Homo sapiens: one gene and its partner. The protein of the gene in region 1 purifies or fractionates together with the protein of each later gene. This does not show direct contact. Each region holds a gene or a part of one and is shown on either strand. Other genes may lie near its edges.

What was found.
Region 2: the proteins of LAPTM4B (region 1) and EXOC3 purify together in Homo sapiens (co-immunoprecipitation; one study listed by IntAct). This does not show direct contact.

Annotation. Positions count from the first base shown.
Region 1 is NC_000008.11:97,817,231-97,821,042, forward strand, and holds part of LAPTM4B (lysosomal-associated transmembrane protein 4B), read left to right. Parts: intron 1-1,909; coding exon 1,910-2,008; intron 2,009-3,812. UniProt on the Homo sapiens protein: Required for optimal lysosomal function. Blocks EGF-stimulated EGFR intraluminal sorting and degradation.
Region 2 is NC_000005.10:463,515-467,326, forward strand, and holds the end of EXOC3 (exocyst complex component 3), read left to right. Parts: intron 1-775; coding exon 776-898; intron 899-1,596; coding exon 1,597-1,758; intron 1,759-2,203; coding exon 2,204-2,331; intron 2,332-3,212; coding exon 3,213-3,384; 3' UTR 3,385-3,776; downstream 3,777-3,812. UniProt on the Homo sapiens protein: Component of the exocyst complex involved in the docking of exocytic vesicles with fusion sites on the plasma membrane.

The DNA of each region.
Region 1 (3,812 bases):
CCGTGATCCTCCCATCTCAACCTCTTGAGTAGCTGGCACTATAGGCATGCACCACCATGCCCACCTAATTTTTCTTTTTGTATCTTATGTAGAGATGGGGTTTCACCATGTTGCCCAGGCTTGTCTCAAACTCCTAGACTCAAGTGATCCTCCAGCCTTGGCCTCCCAAAGTGCTGGCATTATAGATGTGACTCACTGTACCAGGCCAACTTTACTTTTTTTTTTTTTTTTTTTTGAGACAGAGTCTCACTCTATCACCTAGGCTGGAGTGCAGTGTTGTGATCTCGGCTCACTGCAACCTCCGCCTCCCTGGGTTCAAGCCATTCTCCTGCCTCAGTCTCCTGAGTAGCTGGGATTACAGGCACCCGCTACCAAGCCTGGCTAATTTTTTGTATTTTTAGTAGAGATGGGGTTTCACCATCTTTTCCAGGCTGGTCTCAAACATTTAGCCTCAGAGGATCCACCCTCATCGGCCTCCCAGAGTGCTAGGAATACAGGCGCCCACTACCATGCCTGGCTAATTTTTGTATTTTTTTTTTAGTAGAGGTGGGGTTTTGCCATGTTGACCAGGCTGGTCTCGAACTCCTGACCTCAGGTGATCCGCCCACCTTGGCCTCCCAAAGTGCTGAGATTACAGGCGTGAGCCACCATGCCCAGCCTGCAACCTCAATCTTCTGGGCTCAAGTGATCCTTCCACCTTAGCCTCCCAAGTAGTTTGGACTACAGACATGCACCACCATGCCCGGCTAAATTTGTATTTTTAGTAGAGATGGGGTTTGACTATGTTGTCCAGGCTGGTCTCAAACACCTGCACTCAAGCAATCTGCCTGCCTCAGCCTCCCAAAGTGCTGAAATTACAGGCATGAGCCACTGTGCTTGGCCAAGTTATTTTATTAATAAAAGAGTAAAGTTGCATGATCTGATCACAAAGAATGACGATTTTATTTCTTAGATATTTTGTCCCAAGTGAAAGGAGACTGAAAACCATTAGGTGGTGTTCACCCTGGTGAGCAGGAGCCAAGCCCATGAGTCATGGGCCTTCTCCATGTTCTTCCTCAACATTGGAAACAACTTTGTTTTGGAATATTGCTCGTGAGGAATCCAAACACATAGTGTTGAATGGTGAAGGGAGATAAAAGATGAGATAGCACAGTAGGCTGCCTTCCCATTCACTTGCCTAGGCCAGTGATGTAGGCGTTGATCAATGCTGTGTGAGTGTTCTGTGGGGAAAGTCCGGCAACTCCCTCTAACCATAGTAGCAGACTTTGATCCTCCTGAAAAGGTTCCCTTTGACCTGGTTGTTAAGCATTGTGGATGGTAGTGCTTGATTATTTCCCCCCACCCTGGAAGTACTTGCTAGTATAAGAGAATATGCTGTCTTGGGAGAAGTACCATCAACAAAAATGCTCTTTGCAAAGAAGACCTCATTTTAGTAGGTTTCTGTCCCTTGCCCTGCATATGCCCTTTAGAATGGTTCAGAACTTTTGAGACATGGTCTGGCTCTGTCGCCCGGGCGGCTGGAGTGCAGTGGCATGATCTCGCTCACTGCAACCTCCACCACCAGGGCTCAAGTGATTTGCTCACCCCAGCCTCCCAAGTAGCTGAGCTGGGCGACAGAGAGAAACTCCATCTCAAAAAAGAAAAAAAAAAAAAAAAGGAATGGTTCAGAACTTGCAGAGAATACAAATTTCAGAGATCCCTGGATATACAAAATGTCCCTGGATACCGATCACTGACGTCTTTTATATGGTAAGAGGGCAGAGTCAGGCTAGAAATTTTGTATTGGTTCTAAATAATAGCTGTCTGCTTTAATCAGTTGCTTTCTGATAAGCATGTCTGAATTGGTGCCCAAGGAATACTGTCTGGAATGATTAATGAGATTTGCTAATGAGGCCCTTTTCTTTTGCAGCCTCCTAATTTTCCCTACAGAGATGATGTCATGTCAGTGAATCCTACCTGTTTGGTCCTTATTATTCTTCTGTTTATTAGCATTATCTTGACTTTTAAGGTAAGCATGAAGATTTTACTTATAGTCTAAAAATATTAAGTGTATTCCTGAATACCAAATAAGTAAACAAACTTTGGTCAGTTTATTGTCTTTCTTTGGACATCCAAATTGCTTTTTGATTTCCTAAGATTACAATTCTTTATGCTGTCTATGTTGGAGGTAAACACTAATCAAAATTCCACAGTTTGATCAAGGAGTCCAAAATATATTTGGACAGAGATAAGTTAACATAATGTTATACATTACATAGTATATGATATTGCAACGTCTGTTACAAGGTCTGTGTAATGGATATTCTTTTGTAATTTTTTGCTAAAAGTGTAATATTTTCTGAATATTGTTCTATCTCAATCCATTATATGAATATCATTATTTAATAAATTACTTGATGAGCATTGAGACATTTTTTACTTTTTCACTTAATAGGGCTGTAGTGAATATATTTAAGTACATCCTTATATTTATGCATTTATCTCAAGATAAATTTCCTTTTTTTTTTTTTTTTTTTTTTTTTGAGATGGAGTCTCGCTCTGTCGCCCAGGTTGGAGTGCAGTGGCGCAACCTCGGCTTACTGCGAGCTTCGCCTCCCGGCTTCACGCCATTATCTTGCCTCAGCCTCCCCAGTAGGTGGGACCACAGATACCCGCCACCATGCCCAGCAAATTTTTTTGTATTTTTAGTAGAGATGGGGTTTCACTGTGTTAGCCAGGATGGTCTCGATCTCCTGACCTCATGATCCGCCCACCTCGGCCTCCCAAAGCTGGGATTACAGGCATGAGCCACTGTGCCCGGCTTCAAGATAAATTTCTTAAAATCAGGGTGTTCATGGTTGGAAAGCCTTTGATAGGTTGTCAAATTGATGTCCCCCAAAGTTAAATGACTTCTACTTCCTGCAGCAGTGCCTCACCCTTATCAATCAATTGCTGCAAATTCTTTTTCATCTTGGTCAATCTGTTTATAAAACCATCATTATAACTTGTGCTTATGAGCTACTAATGGGTAGAAAACTCTCATGGCTCTTTATGCTTTCAACTTTTTTCTTTTTTTATTTATTTTTCTTTCTTTCTTTTTTTTTTTTTTTTGAGGTAGGGTCTCTCCCTGTAGTCTAGGCTGCCTCCTGCCTTGGTTTCCCAAAGTTTTGGGATTACAGGTGTGAACCACTGCACCCAGCATACTTTGAATTTTTGAATCTCAATGCCTTTCATTGTCTTAATTTTGGCATAAAATTATGTCATTCTTCAAAAATCATGCCTCAGTAAACTTGGGAAAGCTGCATTGAGGCAGAAAATTCATATAGGTACTGTGATGAAAAGGAGTAGAAAGAAAGTGGTTCATTGGAAACCAGTTGGCCAGGTGAAATGGCTCACACCTGTGATCCCAACACTTTGGGAGGCTGAAGTGAGAAGATTGTTTGAGCTGGGAGTGTGAGGCTGTAGTGTGCTATGATAGCAGCACTGTACTTCAGCCTGGGTGACAGAGTGAGACCCCGTCTTGTTGTTGTTGTTGTTGAGACAGAGTCTCACTCTGTCACCTAGGCTGGAGTGCAGAGGTGCGATCTCGGCTCACTGCAACCTCTGCCTCCTAGGTTCAAGCAATTCTCCTGCCTCAGTCTCACGAGTAGCTGGGACTACAGGCGCCTGTTACCACACCCAGCTAATTTTTGTATTTTAGTAGAGACGGGTTTCACCATGTTGGCCATGCTGGTGTCAAACTCCTGACCTCAGGTGATTTGCCTGCCTCGGCCTCCCAAAGTGCTGGAATTACAGGCATAAGTCACCACACCTGGCTGGGGACACCGTCTCTT
Region 2 (3,812 bases), on another chromosome or scaffold:
GAGGGTGTGGGAAAAAGGGGCTGTTTGTATTCTGTGTGGGCCTGAACTGGGTTGGGTTTTTGAGGGCAGCTTGGAAATACAGCCATTGTAGTTTTAATCTGTAACTTTTACTGGAGTTTTAATTTGTACACTTCTATTGGAGTTTTAATTTGTATACTTTTATTGGAGTTTTAATTTGTATACTTTTATTGGTTTTAATGTGTATACTTTTTGACTGAAAAATTCAACTTTAAGGAATTTCATCAGAATTATACAGATTCACTGTTGCATTATTGCAAAATGTGAAAAAAATTTAAATGTCCATCAATAGAGAATTGGGCAAATAAATACGATAAATATATGTAGCCACTAAAGGTAAAATGTATACATGCACAGATATTTCCATCTTTAACATGTCATTTTGGGAAGCTCATCACAGAAATTGTAGTATAAATCTCCTATACTTAAAGTACACATTTGCAGATTATATAATCAAATTTTTACCTGAGTGCGCATTGCTGTTGTAATTAGAAAAGCAGTGTGACGTAGCAAAGATGCACGGAAGTGCCTCCCTCCCACACGCACTCAGTGCTCGTGGGACGTTGAGGTGAGGAAGTGCCTCCCTCCCACGCTGCACGCAGCTCTCGTGGGGCGTTGAGGTGAGGAAGTGCCTCCCTCCCACACTGCACGCAGCTCTCGTGGGGCGTTGAGGTGAGGAAGTGCCTCCCTCCCACATGCACTCGGCTCTCGTGGGACGTTGAGGTGATGATTTCTATGATCTGTTTCTGCTTTTCAGCAACATCTGAATGAATTGATGACGAAGAAGTGGCTATTAGGGTCAAACGCTGTAGACATTATCTGTGTCACCGTGGAAGACTATTTCAACGATTTTGCCAAAATTAAAAAGCCGTATAAGAAGGTAAGAAGGTGGGACCTAGTTCCCTCATCACCTTGACGCTAGGGCTCACCTCTCACCCTGCTCAGAATTCAGCATCCAGCGAGTCCCTCCGTGAGTGAACGTTCACTTGTTGTCCTATCAGCCCAAGGGAGGCAATAGGCTCTGCGGACGCCACCTCCCTGGGACGGGGCTCTGGTGAGAATGGCCGGGGCCCTGTGGCATGGCCCTCGAGGTGGAGGGAGCCATGGTTCCCGGAGAGGCCCGCGTGCCCCGTCTTAGCTCCTTGCCTTCCACTCACTCCCTGAGGCCCCAGGGATTTCTTTCCGCTTCAGACCCTCCTTCCTGCAGGACCCAGGTTCCTCTTTCCTCCAAAGTGCCTGCCGCGTTTTCCAGATGCTGCGGTCGTTATCAAAGGACAGCAGCAGCCACTGACACGGGCCTGTCTGTGGACCGAGTGCTCATGCGCGGCACTGCCTCGCCCGCGTCTGTCCTGCTGGGGGCCGGAGCTGGCCTGGTGCGGGGGTCCAGGTCACCGTCACTGTTCCCCCACTGAGCCCCCGCTCCTCCTCTGCGGTGAGATGCCAGAGCCGTGGCGGAGCGAGGAGGAGTGGGCTCAGAGCCTCCGGGGAGCCACCGGGAGCCCCAGCCTGGGTTTCAATGAGGGTGCTCCTGGCCGCCAGAGCCGTGGAGCCTGCCGCTGACCGCGCGTGTCTCCCCAGAGGATGACGGCCGAGGCGCACCGGCGCGTGGTGGTGGAGTACCTGCGGGCGGTCATGCAGAAGCGCATTTCCTTCCGGAGCCCGGAGGAGCGCAAGGAGGGTGCCGAGAAGATGGTTAGGGAGGCAGAGCAGCTGCGCTTCCTGTTCCGGAAGCTGGCGTCCGTGAGTGTCGCGCAGGTCCGGGCTGGAGAAGGCCTGTCGCTCCGCGGCCCTGTTCAGCCTCCACCCCGGGACTCGGGCCAGTAGATGGGAGTGTGTCGTGTGTTTGTCAGGCGGGGGGAGCCTGGGTCCAGGTCCTGCCTGACCTTGTGGTTGGACACGAATGTCCACAGAGGTAGACGCGCCGGCCCCGCCGGCTTCCCGAGGCCGCCCACAGCTCCCTGACGGACGCTTCCCAGTCTGTCCTGCGCTGCGAGGTGCTGGCTGCCTCCCACGGTCTCGCCCTCACCCCAGACCCCTGGCCCTGTCACTGAGCTTTCAGAGTAGATCCTGAGGAGTCAGGTGAAGAGGGAGGTTCCCAGTCAGGAAGGGGCTCAGCCAGAATCCAGCTGCTCCCAGCGCCGCGGGACAGCCGAGGGCGGCTCCTCACATTGCTGCTGCCTTCCAGGGTTTCGGGGAAGACGTGGACGGATACTGCGACACCATCGTGGCTGTGGCCGAAGTGATCAAGCTGACAGACCCTTCTCTGCTCTACCTGGAGGTCTCCACTCTGGTCAGCAAGTATCCAGACATCAGGTAAGGGATGCACGTCTTAGAATCCTGCCTTAGAATCCTGGAGTGGAGCGGCAGGTCCCTCCTTCTGTCTGGGGCGGGTGGGGCTCCTGGTTCGCAAGTTCAGCCCTGCAGCACGGCAAGGGTTCAGGTGCGGCACAGCGGGGCCCAGGCGCAGGGAGCAGAGCTGCTTCTGTGCTGCCTTCCACCTGGCCTGGGCTACAGTGTGGGTGGGTGGAGCTCGAGGGGCACATCCCGGGTGGGGACAGTGGGGTGGGGGCGGGGCTGTGACAGCTCTGCTGTGTGTGGTGGGGAAGATTTGGGCTGTGGAGTGGCCTCAGTGGGGCGAGTTTAGGAAGTTTCCTCTGTGCTCATGGTGGACTCGGGAGGGCCCAAGTGCAGCTTGGACCAGACACCTTCCGAGGACGTGATTACAGGGAGTCCCCAGTACCAGGTCCAGGGAAGGGGACCCACGCACGTCCCCCCTCCACCATGCTGGCTCCAGGCCCCAGGCCAGCCTTTGCGGCCCCTGTCTCAGGGCACCTGCCACTTCCCCAAGGGGCCACCTCCATGGCTGCAGCCGCGTCACCTCCGTCCCATCATCTCGCTGGTTAAACGTGGAAAAACGGGGTCTTGAGCTCTCCACGGTCTCCCCTCTGGTTGGGCCGGAACAAAGATTTATAAAAGCAGTGTTGAAAAATCTTTCTGCAATTGGATTGAGAAAAGACAGAGTAAGATGAAAATGCAGGCTTGTCTCCCGCTGAAAAGGGAAAGGTGCAATTTGTCTGCAGCGGTCCTCACCCCCTGTGTTCTGTCAGCTGGGGTGGTGAAGCCGTGAGTCCCTGGCAGCGTGGTGCATCACAGGGCTGCTAAGTGGGCATGGGCTGACATCTCCCCATCCCCAGGGATGACCACATCGGTGCGCTGCTGGCTGTGCGTGGGGACGCCAGCCGTGACATGAAGCAGACCATCATGGAGACCCTGGAGCAGGGCCCAGCACAGGCCAGCCCCAGCTACGTGCCCCTCTTCAAGGACATTGTGGTGCCCAGCCTGAACGTGGCCAAGCTGCTCAAGTAGCCTCCGCCGGCCTGCCCTGCTCGCCCCTCCACAGCCTCGGTCCCTGCCTTTAGAAACGCGGGACAGCTGATTGCTCTCCTTGGCCACACGTGCTCCTTTTAGCTGCACGGCCTGTCTTTAGGTGCCAGTGTGATGCACCGGGTGTGCGTCGAGTGAGCGTCCCGAGGCCACGTGCGGAGGCCCCTCACTGTGCTGTCAAAGGCCTGTGGGTGCAGGGCTCTGCCGCACAGCCTCTCTTGGGTGCTTGTTTGTTGCAGTGGTTGAAAGTGTGTGGGGCACAGAGGACGTGCACCTCCCTGCCCTCCTCCTCCCTGGGCCTTCACCGCACCCCATCTGCTTAAGTGCTCGGAACCCCGTCACCTAATTAAAGTTTCTCGGCTTCCTCAGAGAAATGAAAACGCCATGCATTCTCTTTTCCAGTTAAGGTT